2 linked regions of the Homo sapiens genome follow. The protein of the gene in region 2 interacts with the protein of the main gene of each other region in a biochemical or structural test. Each region holds a gene or a part of one and is shown on either strand. Other genes may lie near its edges.

Region 1 (7,840 bases), on a different chromosome or scaffold from region 2:
TCCGTCTTTAATTTTTTCAGAAATTTGACTATGATGTGTCTCGGTAAAGATTTATGTTTATCCTATACGGAATGTACTCATCTTCTTGAATCTCTCACTTCATATCTTTTACTGAACTTGAAAAGTTTTCAGCATTATTTTCTTCAGTTCACCCTCTTTCTCCTATCCTCTGAGACTCCAACATCACAAATGTTAGATCTTTTGTTATATTCATCTTCATCTTTTCTTCAGATGGGGTAGTTGATATCACCCTCTCTTCAGTTCACTGATTGTTCCTTCTTCTCCCTTCATTCTGCTTTTAAGCCTATTCATTGAGTTTTAAAATTTCAGTGATTATATTTTTCAGATTTAAAATTTCCATTTGGTTCTTTGCCATATATTTTGTTTCTCTGCCGTTGAGGCTTTCTATTTCTTTTCCATTTTGAAGGAATTACAGGGCGATTGCTTTCAAAACTTCATCAGATAATTTTAACATCTTTGTTATCTCAGTGTTGGTGCTTATTGATTGGTTTTTTCATTCAAGTTTTCCTTGGTTCTTCACACACATGATTTTTAATTGAAATCTCAACATTTTGAGGATTATGCTAGGAGCTCTGGGTCTTATTTTTAACTCTGTTTCACCTGGTTTCCTCTGACCCCATCCAGCAGGAGAAGGGCTTAGGGTATCTTATTGCTGCCAGGTGGGAGGCGAAGTCCATTTTCCCACTCAGCCTTCTTGGACATCTGGAGGAGGGAAGGGACCCTGTTACTGTTGGGCAGTGGTAAAAAGTTCTGGTTCCTCATTAGACCTGTACTGATGTGAACCTTGCTAGAAAGGTAAGAGTGTCTTGCTACTTCTCCTTCCATAACCTCTACTGATACTTTGGAAGAAATGGGCCTTGTTACTACTCAGCGGGGATAAAGTCCCAGCTCTGTCCTCTACTGGGACACCTTGTTACAGCCTGGTGAGAGTGGAAGTCAAGGTTCCCCACTCAGCCTGTGCCCAGTGTGGGTGGGGAACAGTTTTTTCTGTGGTTTTTGGCTTCAGTAGTGCAGTTATTATCTAACACATTTCTGTCTTGCTAAGCTGCCCCTTCCCTGATCCTTTATCTAGAAAGAGGAGGCTTTTGTTGCAGCTTTTCTTGTCTATGCCCATTGGTGTTTCCTGGTTGTCGTCTTCTTTAGCTTCAAATCTGGGATAGATGAGGCAAAAAGAAAATCCAGGGAACTCACCACCATGTTGTTCCTTGGGTCCTGAGTTCTGTAGCCAACCTCTCTTCTTCTCTCTATCTTTCAGAGCCTTCTTATGTTGTCTTCTTTGTAATGTCCAGGGTTTTAGTTGTACTTAAAAGGAAGAATCGGGAAAAGCACATGTACTCCATCTTTCCAGAAGCAGAAGTTTCCCAACAGTAGTTTAACAGAGTTAATCTGGAAGAGGCTGGACCTGTTCTCTGCTCAATAAATGCTGTTTATAACAATTAAGAAAATTCCACATCCCTTTCCTCAAAGAAATTACATTCTGGTGAGAAAAAAAAAAATTCTGTAATTAGTCCCTATAAACACTTTCATTCTGAGCTACCCTGGATAGAGAAGAAAATGGTAAGGGTAAGAAATCAAAAAAGACATCTGTGAATTACATTGTTTAACACCATCCCTACGCCAGTAACTTCCCACACTCTGAGGCCCACTCTGAGGTAGATTCCAGAAAATTTACATCCCCCAACTAGCCCATTCTCTGATATAGGCAGGTTCCCTTTGTTCTGTTGTACCCTCAGGAGACCTGACTTTGGGGGTAAGCAATGAAAGGAAGAAACCACAAGCAGGTAATCAGTCTTCCGGCAAGCAAGGTGGAAGAGACATGTGTTTCTTCTATGGTAGGCACAAATGGAAAGCCTCTAGCATCGAGTCCTAGGAATCAAAAATTCCTATGAGTGGAAGATGATGAAGACCCATTTGTGGTTGAAATTTGCTCCTATTTGAAGAACTTCAGACTCTGGCATATCTTGGCCTTCTCAAAGAGTCGGTGATATACCTGATATCTTCTAATAAGTCCCTCTTTTGTGTAAACTAACCAAAGAAATTCTTTTGGTGAAACTAAGAATACTAACTAAATCAACTTGAAGACTTTAAACAGAACAAGGAAAACAAGACGTGTGAGTTATATAATTTTGCAAGGCAGAGATCCTGAATGACTAAAAGCCAACATAAATACGAAGAATTTTCATTTCATTTCTGTACCTGTTCTTGAGGTGGTGATCTAAATTCCTTTGTCTTCCTGGCTGTGAGTGCAGCTGACATGTTTAAGGCTTGCATGACTTCGTTGTATCGGAAACGTTGATTGTCTTGGAGCTTAGCCACAAAATCATCTGAAAAGGCTACAATGGCTTCTATCCGGTGCCGGACCTGGCAGTCACAGAGGTACTGAAGCAGTAGGCACATCTAAGAGACCATTAAAAAGACACCAAATTTAATTTCTAAATCCTTTAATAATGTGTATGAAATCATAATCTGTGGTAAACATCCTTAGTTGCCTACTCTTCTCTCTTAGAAACAGAATCCTGATTTTGTATAGGCAGCAATGTGCTCGGTCCCAGGAGATGAAACATAATTTGTATAAGCAAAAATGGCAAACAAATGTCCCTTTAGTGGATGTTAACTGATATGGTCTGGTTCTTTCCCCATGAAATCTCACCTTGAATTGTAATAACCCCCACATGTCAAGGGCGGGGCTGGGTGGAGATAACTGAATCATGAGGGTGTCTTCCCCCATGCTGTTCTCGTGGTAGTGAATAAGTCTCACAAGATCTGATGGTTTTATAAATGGAAGTTCCCCTGCACATGCCCTCTTGCCTGCCACCATGTAAGATGTGACTTTGCTCCTCATTTGCCTTTCGCCAGGATTGTGAGGCCTCCCCAGCCATGTGGAACTGTGAGTCCATTAAACCTTTTCCCTTTATAAATTACTCAGTCTCAGGTATGTCTTTATTAGCAGTGTGAGAACGAACTAATACACTTACCCTCCCAGCCTCCCTTTCAGCCACAGGTGCAATGGCCAATGAAATATATAAGGGAAAGTTTGCTAAGGGTCTTCTGGGAAAGTTATTCCATCAGTGATAAGAGACTAGAGTTCCCTTCTTTCAAAATGAGTGTAACTGGGTGATGACATGATTACTGCAGAAAGAATAAGGTGAGCATTTTAGGAAGAAAACCACAGGCTGAGGATCACAGAGCAGAAAAATATTAAGATCTGGGTTATGGATGAGATCATTGAACTGCTGTACCAATTCTAGAAATCTAAACTTAAGACAATTAAGTGGTGAATGCTCATTCATTCAGTGATTAGCTGGGTCTTTCTCCTACTGAAAACCAAAAGGATTTATAACTGAGTGAGTATGTTGGTAGAAACATTTCTAAGAGAGAATGCTCTGCCAAATTTTTAAAAAAATCTATACACTCAATACCAATTGTGATATAAATACATGACAGTGTCAAAGAGGACCTTAAAACCCTCTGTGTCACCATCTACAATATAACCATTTCTATCAGTGCTGTCTCTGAAGTAGTCACAGTGTCCAACCCCTTTTCTCCATCTCCTTTGCCCCACCCTCCTCTGAGCATGGTCTCCTAGAGTTTGGACCAGCAAGAAAGCCTCCTGACTAACCAGACACTAGATCACACTCTCTTTCCTCCCTTATCGATTTTCCTACCAGCAGCCACACTGGCCTTTTCCTGCCTCAGGACCTTTGCTGGGCTATTTGTTTTGCATGGAAAGCTCCTAGAACACCCTGCCTTGTTCCTTTTTCTTGTAACTGCTGAGCACAACTCTTAAATCTGAACTCAGCTTAAAAGTCAAAATCTCTGAGGGGTCTTCTCCCTCATCTTTCTAACAGTAATCCAGTCTAAATGTTCTTTCTTTTAGTAATCCATTCTTTGCCTTCAGAGTATTTAATGCAATTAGCAATAAGATTTTTTAATGCATAAATGAGTGTATATTTCCTTAGAGGCTGTGAGATTCTGAAAGGCAGGGTTCACTTGTGTTTCCCCTAAGTGCATACCCAGAGTAAGGCTTCAGTCAACGCTGACTAAAGGAACGAGGAGCAAAAAAGCAGGTCAGCGATGCAAACATCCAATTGACTTTAATAAACAGAGGAGACATTAATAAAGGACCCTTTAGACATCTTGAGGAGCATAAAGACAGCCAGTGTGTCTGATTCCTTAAAAACATACTAAGGTGGCTGGGTGCAGTGGCTTACACTTGTAATCCTAGCATTTTGGGAGCATGAGGAGTGAGGAACACTTGAGTCCAGGAGTTTGACACCAGCATGGGCAATAGAGCGAGACCTCATTTCGACTAAAAATAAAAAAAAATTAACTGGGCATGGTGGCATACCTACAGTCCCAGCTGCTGTAGAAGCTGAGGTGGGAGGATGGCTTGAGCCCAGGAGTTCTAGGCTGCAGTGAGCTATGATTGCACCACCACTGCACTCCAGCCTGGGTGACTGAGTGAGACCCTGTCTCAAAAGAACAAAACAAAAGCATACTAGGGGAAAGTAAAACCTTGCTATGTGACAATGGGTGCATCTACTGGTAAACAAGTATTCTAAGGTTGGTAAGAGTGGAAATATGGGTGGAAAGGGGTATTTGATGGCTTGTATTTCAGGTATTCCAATGTAATGAAGGTAAAAAGCATCTGGGAAACAAGAGGAGATGGCTAATGAATAAGAGGGAAAAGAATAGGAAGTTAGTTAATTTTATGAAGAACTACCATTACACAGGAATGCAAAGAAATAAACACACACACAGAGAAAGAAACAAAGGCATGTTCTAATACCTTAATGCTTAGCAATTCTGAAATTCACTCAAGTCTCTTGTTCTGATTACCTGCAATTTAACTGGCTCTGGCAGTTTCATTTGGAGCAGGCCTTCCTTGGGCCGCTTGCCCCCCTTGGCTTCTTCCTCACCAGCTCCTTGCAGCTTTGCATCGTCCACACTGAGCTCTTTCTCCAGCGTGTCACTCTCCTCCTCCGGAGTGGCAGCTTCTTTAAACACACTGGGCTCAATCAACTGCAAGATGTGCTTCAAGTCCTCGTTGTGAAAGATGCCCATGATCAGCAGGGTATAGAAAAGCTTGATGAGAGGTACAAAGAGGAATTCAGTAGTCCCTCCAACTGGGTCCCGGGCATGAAGACTGCCCTCTTTAACAGCTTCTGTCAGCATCTGTATGGTTTTGGACTTGAGGATGTCCAGTGGGAACTCTGGACTGTACTGGTAACATTCATTACTAATGCTTACAAAACTGGGGGAGGAAAACTGCATCCGTGGCCTGAGGGAGGTGCTGAGGCCGATCCCTGGAAGGCCGTGTTTTTTGTTCTCATCAGGGAACAGGGTGATGCTCTTCGTCTCCTCCGTCATGGGGACAATGTACTCGTTGTTCATCATGAGCCTGGCAGTGGCATAGGAGCTCAGGTGGATGTCAATCAGCAGGTCATAGTAGCCAGCACGCAGCAAACCAGGCATGTACTTGTTCTCAATGGCATAGAGGAGCTGAGGTTCATCCACATGGCTGCACAGGGCATGGGCCACCCGGTGGTTCCCAAGAGCACAGACGGCTGAGTAGAGCCGGAGAGTGTGATAGTGAAATTTCAGCAATTCCTCCTGCTCTGTCAACTCTAAGATGTCAACAGATCTGTAGAAGGGAGGAGAGTGGTAGTAAGATTAGAAATGAATGATTTTTTAAAATCTGAATCAGAGGAGAAATCAGTATGCACTGTAAATTTGAAGGAAAAAAGTTATGGGAATAGACACTGCAGGTTGAACATCCCTAATCTGAAATGCTTGGGACCAGAATTGTTTGGATTTGGGACTTTATTCAGACTTTGAAATGTTTGCATTATACTTACCGGTTGAGCATCCTGAATCTGAAAGTCTGAAATGTGAAATACCCCATTTCCTTTGAGCATTATGTTGGTGCTCAAAATGTTTCCGATTTTGGAGCATTTCGAATTTCAGATTTTTGGATTTGGGACACCCAACCTGTGTCTTCTTTTAATTTTCTATGACATGTTTAATGGCTGCATAGTACTTTTAATCATTTCTAGATGTTCTACAAATTTTCTTCTACATAGAATTTGACATTCATCTAGCACCTCCTTCCTCCTCCATTGTATCAAGGATCTGTGGCAATGAGCCGAGATCGCGCCACTGTACTCCAGACTGGGCAATGGTGAGACTCCACCTCAAAACAATAGATAAATAAAGAAACAACAACAAAAAAGTCTCTAGTGGAGAAATTTCTTTCATATGTCATTGTCATTCAATTGTTCATCAAATATCACTGAGTGCCTATTATGTATTAGCACTGCGCACTGATGATACAATGGTGAATAATATAGACATGATTCCTGCCCCCAGGGAGCTTATATTCAATTGAGGGAGTAAACCACCCCCGCTGACCAAAATGGAGTAAATTAAATTATAAACTGTGACATGTGTTAAGGAGAAACAAAGTACACACTGACATAAATCTACCACCATTGCACACTTTAAAATATTAATGATTTGTCATGTTATTGGGGCATCAGATTCTTCTCAACCATGCTAGTTAAGACTTCCTTTTTTGGAATTTGGATTTTGAAACTCATCATATTTTTCTTTGGCTGCTAGGAAGAATGAAATTAATGTGGGCCCCAACTCTACCAATCGGTGTGGTATAAATGACTGTGTGTCACTCTTAGCCTCAGTTTTATTTTCCTATCCATATATTTTCTATGGCCTGATGCCAGTGACACATTTTTATACATTCATGTTCCATATCATTTGGAAAACTGCCTCAAATCCTTTATGATCTTTAGTGAGAGTTTACATTATCCATTCACATACATACACATCTATCACAGGCAATTAATATAAACTACTGAGACAAGGTGTTATGTTGGTTTTCGATGATAGCATGCCAAAATGTTAAATTATAATGTTAAAATTCCATGCTCAGTAGAGACACAACGTTTTCCTTCATAAACAAGAATTCCTTCCCAAATGTTGTGTTTGTTTTGGTTGTTCGGTATTTTCTTAAAAAACATCATCAGATGAAAAATTATGATAAAACTCTTCTCACAAAAAAAAAGAATACAAAATTAAAATCAAACTGAACCATCTCAAGAGTACATTATGAAAGATATCTAATTACCTCATGTAAAAAATGTAAATACATATGTAATACATAAAAAGAATTAACTAGCCAGATTAATTTTTCTTTGATTTTCTTTTGTTTTAAAATATCTTTGTTGAACTGTAATTTACATGCTATACAATTTACCTACTTAAAATACATAATTTAATAGTTTATGTATATTAATGGAGTTGTGTAACTATAACTATAAGTTGAGTTTAGAACACTTTTATCATCCCAAAAGGAATTTAGTACCCATTAGCAGTCCTGTTCCGCTCCTAGCCCTAGGTAACTACTAATCTACTTTTCGTTTCTAAAGATTTGTCTATTATGGACTTTTCAATTAAATAAAATCCCACACTAGTAGGATTCTTTCACTTAATATACTTCCGTGACTGGTTTCTTTCACTTAATATAATGTCTTCAAAGTTCTTGCATTTTGTAGCATATATCAGTACTTCAATCATTTTTATTGCCAAATAATATTATATGGATATATCACATTTTGTTTATTGACTCATAAGCTGGTGAACATTTGGGGTTCCCTTTCTTTTACTATTGTTCATAATGCTTCTATGAATATTCATGTACAAGTTTTTGTGTGGACATATTTTAATTTCTCTTGGGTATATACGAGGAGTAGAATTGCTAGATCACATGTTAACGCTATAATTTTATTTTTTGAGGAACTGA
Region 2 (7,979 bases):
AGCCTATAGTTCCAGCTACTTGGGAAGCTGAGGCAGGAGGATTCATTGAGCTCAGGAGTTTGAATCCAGTCTGGGCAGCATATTGAGATGCCTCCTCTTAAACAAACAAATAAACAAACAAACAAACAAAACCAAACCCAGAAAACCAAACCCATGAATTTTGGAGGGAACACTCAAACTATAGCCAATGCCTACTTACAAATAGGAAAAAAATGACCAGGAGGAAACATTTCTATAAATGTTGCTGTCTGCAAATGATACTACCAGATTTCTGTCTTGTCAGTTCAGGATGGCAGAGAAAGATTGGAGGCAGACTGAGTTGTGCTGAAGGTGAGAGAAGTTTTATTTTTTCCTTCTTCTGCAGCCGCAGGCTGAATTGGAGGTTTAGTGGTGTTCTAGCTCATTGCTGTTTACAGTCATATTTACTATGTTGCAGATGGACACCCAATGGAACATTAGTCTATGAAAAAAGGATTCTGTGATTAAATATAAATTAGGAAAATACTGCATACTATATTTCTACAGGAGAGTCTCAATGCATATTAGCAGATTGAAAACTCTTAGAAAATCTGCAACCTATTTAATAAATGCTGATGGGAAAACTGGCTAGCTACATGCAGAAAACAGAAACCGGACCCCTTTCTTATACCTTATACAAAAATGAATTCAAGATGAATTAAAGACTTAAAACCATGAAAACCCTAGAAGAAAACCTAGGCAATACCATTCAGGACACAGGCATGGGCAAAGACTTACTGATTAAAGCACCAAAAGCAATTGCAACGAAAGCCAAAATTGATAAATGGGATCTAATCAAACTAAAGAGCTTCTGCACAGCAAAAGAAACTATCATCAGAGTGAACAGGCAACCTACAGAATGGGAGAAAATGTTTGCAGTCTACCCATCTGACAAAGGTCTAATATCCAGAATCTATAAGGGACTTAAACAAATTTACAAGAATAAAACAACCTCATCAAAAAGTGGGCAAAGGATATGAACAGACACTTCTCAAAAGAAGACATTTATGTGGCCAAAAAACATATGAAAGAAAAGCTCATCATCACTGGTCATTAGAGAAGTGCAAATCAAAACCACAATGAGATACCACCTCACGCCAGTTAGAATGGCAATTATTAAAAAGTCAGGAAACAACACATGCTGGAGAGCCTGTGGAGAAATAGGAACGCTTTTACATTGTTTTGGGGAGTGTAGATTAGTTCAACCATTGTGGAAGACAGTGTGGCGATTCCTCAAGGATCTAGAACCAGAAATAGTATTTGACCTAGCAATCCCATTACTGGGTATATACCCAAAGGATTATAAATCATTCTACTATAAAGACACATGCACATGTATGTTTATTGCAGCACTATTTACAATAGCAAAGACTTGGAACCAACCCAAATGCCCATCGATGATAGTCTGGATAAAGAAAATGTTGCACATGTACACCATGGAATACTATGCAGCCATAAAAAAGAATGAAGCTGGAAGCCATCATTCTCATCAGACTAACACAGGAACAGGAAATCAAACACTGCATGTTATCACTCATAAATGGGATTTGAACAATGAGACCACATGGACACAGGGAGGGGAACACCATACACCAGGGCCCTTCGGGGGGTTGTGGGCAAGGTGAGGGAGAGCATTAGGACAAATAGCGAATTCATGCAGGGCTTACAGCCTAGATGATGGGTTGATAGGTGCAGCAAACCACCATGGCACATGTATACCTATGTAACAAACCTGCATGTTCTGCACATGTATCCCAGGACTTAAAGTAATATAAAATAAAAAAAGAAAGTCTGCAATAAAGGAACATGTTTTTAACACTGTCACTTTATCATAAATAATGATATATAATATAATCTTGTTAGAAAATTTATATTTTATTAAATTATAATTTTATCTATAAATGGATAATTTGTTCAGAATAAACTACCCCAAAATCTTGGTGGTGTTTGTTTCTCACTCATTGCAGCCCAGTGTAGGTCAATAGGTAGTTGGGAGAGGATGGTTGAGCTCCATGCAGTCATTCAGGGACCCAGGCTCCATCCACAATGTGTGGCCATTATCTTTCTGGGCTTCAGAGTTCCACTGGATTCTTTGCATCCAGCTAGCAGGACAGGAAAACATGAAGAAGAGACACTTGGTCTTAGCCACCTTTGGAGTTGATGGTTTCCACTTCTACTTCCGTTTCATTGGTGAGTGCCATTTTGTGGGCAAGCAATTTAGCTAGTCCAGGTTGCTAAAAGTTTGACCTGGCCTCAGGTTTGATGAGCCATCCATTTCTTCCCATCAAATGATTGACTTGCTTCTGGCAAAAAAGATTAACAAGATTCTTACCATCTTGAGAAGCCATATTCAAATCTGGAACACCTGCTCCCACCCTGTCCTCTCCTCTTTATAGCATGTGGATTTCAGCTCTGGAAAGACTAATCTTGTTCTGTAATAGGTCCATGTCTCTTTATCTTCTCCAGAGACTGAAGGGTTCTTCAGAGGTATCTTAAAGAGTCAGCTTACAGCAAATGAGGTTGGAGGCAGTGGTTGAGAATGGCTCATCAGTCTGGGCTCTGGGCTTCTTATCTTGCCTCAACCAAGGCAGTCCAGCTTTGATCTGTATCATTAAAAGAAAGGTTATATTACTAATGAAAAACCTGAAAACTATGGTTATTAGCTAAATCAATCATCTCTGCAGATGAAAAACTTGAGGCCCCAAGAAGTTAATCAATTGGCCTGATATCACACAGATGCTCTAGGAGGACCTGACATTTACAGTTGGGTTTCCTGACTCTCAGATCTGTACTCTTTGTACTGGGGTAGCTGCCTGCTACTTCTCCCCTTGTGTGTGGCATGTGGTCTGAGGTCTAAGATAAAGGGAGGGAGTCAGGCTCTGCTGATGCCACAAAGGACCTAAGCAGGCAGATTCACCTCCTGCTTTTGGTCTCTTAATTCCTCTCTAGATGAAGCAAGAACAAGTCTGTCTTCCCATCTAGGGCAGGGTTGCTCTGTGCGAGGCTGATGGTGCACGCTGCTGGGATATTGGCACTTCTCAGGCATTTTATTAGCTCCTGTTTACAGAGACACTGCCTGAATTCCTTCTGCCACTCATCCCACACCGCCTATGCTGGTGGTTAACAGTGCCATTTTAAAATCTCAAGCAGGAGGAGACAACATAATTGTCTCATGTTTTAAGCTTTTGGAATGTTGTTCTTTTTCAGAGTTGTGAAGACGGAGTGGATACAGGTCAACTTGATTCTGCTTTTCTCTATCAATGGCCTGCAAATATTAAATATGCAAAACATAGGCTGCTCTGTCCATATCTCCTTCTCCCCAGTTCTCACCACATGACGTTGATTTCTGCTCAGGACTGGAAAGAAGTGATTGCTTTAGATTTGCTTTTCTTTTACCAACTGGAGAAATGCCTTACCGTGTCTTGTTTAAATGTGGCTTTTCACACAGTTCCAGCTTTTGGGGTTGGGGAGGGGCACAAATAATCTGTGTGGTAGGCAGTTTTATTGTTCAGAAAAGAAGAAAACAGACCCCAATGTTTGGAATGCCAACGATTTAGGAAGTTTCTAGCAGGTCTGCTACTTGTTCCAACCACTAGGTTTGATCCCAGAAAAGACTCACATGCGTTTTGGCCATGAGAAGGAGGGGTTCCCTGCAGGCCAAAGGAAGGGTCAGTAGAAGTTGAGGGTGGTGTGTTGTGCCCCTCTAGATTCCAAACTTCCCTTTGCTGCCTATCTGATGACCAGGTGAAAGCTGGGTTTATTCTGCATGGGAAGGTTCTGTGGGTTGGTGTTCATCAGGGAAAATAACCAGGACAGACTTCATTGGCCAAGGGTTTGCCCATGTTTTGAGAATTAAAACTTGTTTACTTGAGAGTTAGAGTCATTTGGTCAGCTGTTTATATTCCATTTTTAATTATTTTTGTGCTCGCTGTTTTGTTCTTTTGGTCTTTGACAGATGAGCAAAAATTCTTTTTAATAACTTTTAAAAAGCTATCCCAGTGCTGACCAGGGAGGAAAAAGTGATCAAATTGTCTAATAAGGAAACATTGTACATTTCAGTTTTTATTTGCTTAGTACTAATTCTATTTTCTCCTCCCACCTTTTTTTTCTAAATGTATAACAACAAAGGGGGAGATAATTTTTGTTTTTTCCAAAATGCTTTCAGGGAAATCCCTTTTAAACCTATGGATTTTAGTCCAATGAGGAATCCTCTTCCTTTGGTCTAAATTTTGCATATCGTCTGTTTCTTACAGGGCTTCCGTATTGTCTCAGGCTCCACTGGAAATGCAGCAAGGATTCCTAGCACATCCCAGTTGCCATAGCAACAGCAGTCTTTCCCATAATGAGCTGCATCATCTGAACTGATGTCACAGCATCATGCAGCAGGTCAAACAAGGCATCTCCTAGTATTGCATCCTACAGATGTGCTGTAAACATCAAAAGAAGACGGTGGGATCAGGAGATGGTGAGTGTTAAATGTCTGGGCCTTAATTGCACGGCTGTTTTGTTGGTTAGTCGGTGTCTGCTAAGGCGGAGATTGGGGGATGTTGTCTCTGCTTAAAATGGACTGGGGAAAGAAGGGCTGTTTTACCTAAATCGTTTTTCAGGCTGCCGGGTTAAGACAAAGGCCTGTAAGAGTCATATAGGAATTAAAATATGTAGAATTATTCTTGCTCCAGCTCTGTCTGTTATTTTTAAGTGTTCTTACAGAATTTTTCATAAACATAAGATGATTTTTCAATTGCAAAACCCCAGATAAGCTTTAAAATGAGTAGTTAACAGTATTTAAGCATTGTAAAAATATAGATTTCTTTTTGGGAGGCAGAGCTAATTGGCCCCCTCTTTGCTCTTGTGAATTATGAAATATTCAGTGATTTGCAGTATGAAATTCATTATTTACCTCGGTTGGGTTTCAGTTTCTTCATGGCAAGGAACAAATGCTGAATAAGCATTTGACATAACCCTGATGTGAAAGGGGATCTCTTGCATATTCAAGACAGAATTTATTAAAAGCATAAAAACCTAAACCAAATGAAATTATTTGAGCCTTTTGATCTATATGGTAGTTCTTCAACCCATGTCCTTCAGAGTTAGTTGAAAGACTGCCACATATTTTTCCATCTCTAGCTAGTCTCTGAAATAGCTGGAGTTGTTTGCAGGCTGACTTGTAACTGAGAAAGGAACAAGTCTCCTCTCTGCGGCAGTTGCAGTGAAGGGTAACCCTGGGAGAGCCTCTGAAGTGGCAGTGGTGTTGCCATCCCTTGCTTAACTTTAACAAAAATCTGGGTATGATGAATAAATATCAGGGTCCTCAGTGGTTGTAGGGATTACAGACCTCTGGACTCAGTCATAACCTCAACTCAATTCCAAAACTCTAAACACGTATCATTTTCATTTCAACTCCTAGCTCTGTTTTTAGGCATCTTTATTATTATTATTATTTTCTAAAAAATTAGTCTGACAGTGTCAGATAAGGAGCAGAATGTTGCCTTTTGTTTTGGGAAATGAAATGGATTTCCCTGGTACAGCTGATTGCTACTAGGGGAGAGAAAGGAGGAGGCACATGTCAGTTCAATTGATCAATATGTCCACTTAGAATCAGGGAGTGGTCTTGTGGCTTAATGCTGCCAAATTGATAGTTTTTACTCAAAAAGTCTTACACGAAAGAATGGCAACCATTGAATTCCTCTTCTTTTAGTCTGTTTATTGGGGCTAAAGAGATATATCATGGAAAGCAGGAAAAGCAATACCTTTAGCTAGCTTGGAGTGATTTTTTTTTTTTTTTTTTTTTTTTTTTTTTGCACAGAGTTAAGTATGCTAGTCCCATTAGGCACCAGCCAGAGGAAAGGCCTCAGGTTTTAATTTGTTTGTTTATACCACATCACGCACATGCTTGCTACTCTCAGTCCTTTAAGCTTATGTTTCTGACATGCAGCTGTATAGGATGGGAGAGGTCAGCTCAGCCTGGCTTTATCGCAAGCACTTAGAAGCATGAATTGTTCATTGCCTGCTTTTTTATGTCATATAATGTGAGCAGAAAGCTCTGCTGGGACTGCTGGGTGTGAACACATCTAAGTCGAAAGCTCTAAGGTGACAGGGAAGAGTGCTAGATGGTGATGGGGGAAGGGAAAGTATGTCTTGTAGCTAGATTATAAATCTGGATAAAATCACTTAGTGCCTTTTAGAATTTTCTTAAAGTATTATTTCTGAAGAAGAGCAATGAAGAAAGACTTGTTTGGTAACATGAATTTCTAGGAGTAAAAAAAAGCAAAAGGCAGCATTGTAATGAGTTTTCTGTTTGCTTAATTCTTGTCTCTTTTGTTTAAAGTGCTCTTCAGCTGCTTCATCATGGTTGATTTGTTCAATTACTGGAAGTCACAAAAGCTAGATTCCTTAAGGGCAGTGTTAGAAAAAGTGGAGTCATGCTTTGAGGGTGGGGAAGGGCGCTGGTGGGTGTGGACTGACGCAGTTATCTAGTGGAACATCCTCCCGGTTCAGACAACCCTGTAATTTTTCCCCCCGCAAATGTTCAAAATGCAATTACAGTTCTCCAACTTTATGCTTTTGTGCTCTTTTTGCTCCAGGAGAACAAAGCCCTGGTAATGAGAGCTATCATCCTAATGTTTTGTTTCTTCGTTTCTTTGTAGAGGGCCACAGCCTGCGCTGCTCTCTGATTAGCTGCATGTCTTAATTACTGGCTAAGGCTATTTCAGTTGTCTTAGTTTTAATATATCCCCAAGGGGTAGATGGTGTGTGTGTGTGTATAGGGGAAGGGAGAGATTTCTCTATGGCTGTATTTATTGGTGCCTCACTGAAACTTTCTACAGTTTAAGGAATTTTGTTTCACAGTAATGATAGATCATCAAGACCATGTTTATTGGACAGAGTTTAGGCCATGGAAGCCTCACAAGAAGTTAATGTCCTCTATACTTTTGGTCATGGCTTTCACAAATACATTACAAAGTTACAAAGAAGTTAATTCTTTGCCGATAACTAGGCCGCATAGGGATGATAAAAATAATAATCATAATAACAATCATAGCTATCATTTATTCAGTTCTTACTGTGTATCAGTACTGAATTAAGTTTTGTGTATATCTTATTTAGCCCTTATTATTATTATGAAGTAGAGAGTAATAATCTCACTTTATAGGATTAGGTGTTATTATTCACATTTTGCAAAAACCAGTCCTTAGCCAGGCGAATAAACTTGGCTAAGGTTATGTAGTTAATAAGTGATTGGGCCAGGATTCCAAACCATTGCGATCTGGCTATGCAGCACACATGCTTACCCACGGCCATCTCAGTTTTATGACATCTTTACTGTATATACCATACAGATCAGTCATCTATACTCTATCACACGTACCCCACCCCTCCTCATTCTAATTGGAAAATCAGATTTCATATGTAGAATGAAATGTCATTTGCAACACTAAGGTTGATTTCACTGTAAGGATGAGCATGAATCTTGATCAGATGTGAATATTTACTTTGTACCCAGAGATTTAAGTAATGAAGAGTTGATGCTTAGACTTTTGCCACTGCCCTTGCTTGATATAACTTTCTAGCAGGATCTCTGTATGGAAAATGTTACATCAATAATTGTGGGCATGATGGAGTTGCACTCAAAGCAGGTCTTACCTGAGTCAGTAATGATTCAGCTTTGTTATAAACCTGTCTTATCAGCTATATTTGTGGTGCTTTGTTAACTTTAAGATGTTTGTATTCCCTGCTGTTGCACCAGGTTCTGTTCTCAACCTGGTGTTGAGAACAGAAGCAGAAACTTCTCTCACAGTCTGGAAAGTGTAATCTGAATCTATCTCTTAGGTTAAGAAGATAGAGGATTTATTTTGCTGAATGTATCAGTGGCTGAAACCAAACTCTGTCTATCTCTGACAAAGTACAAGAATGACAGTCTTGTGTAATAACCTGGAAGCCTTGTGTTTGAGGAGAGCTGA

Evidence for each region.
Region 1: the proteins of AKAP6 (region 2) and RYR2 form a complex in vitro, tested with the Homo sapiens proteins (one study listed by BioGRID).

Annotation. Positions count from the first base shown.
Region 1 is NC_000001.11:237,611,864-237,619,703, reverse strand, and holds part of RYR2 (ryanodine receptor 2), read right to left. Parts: intron 5,666-7,840; coding exon 4,861-5,665; intron 2,419-4,860; coding exon 2,218-2,418; intron 1-2,217. UniProt on the Homo sapiens protein: Cytosolic calcium-activated calcium channel that mediates the release of Ca(2+) from the sarcoplasmic reticulum into the cytosol and thereby plays a key role in triggering cardiac muscle contraction. Aberrant channel activation can lead to cardiac arrhythmia.
Region 2 is NC_000014.9:32,324,926-32,332,904, forward strand, and holds the start of AKAP6 (A-kinase anchor protein 6), read left to right. Parts: upstream 1-4,372; 5' UTR 4,373-4,483; intron 4,484-7,979. UniProt on the Homo sapiens protein: Binds to type II regulatory subunits of protein kinase A and anchors/targets them to the nuclear membrane or sarcoplasmic reticulum. May act as an adapter for assembling multiprotein complexes.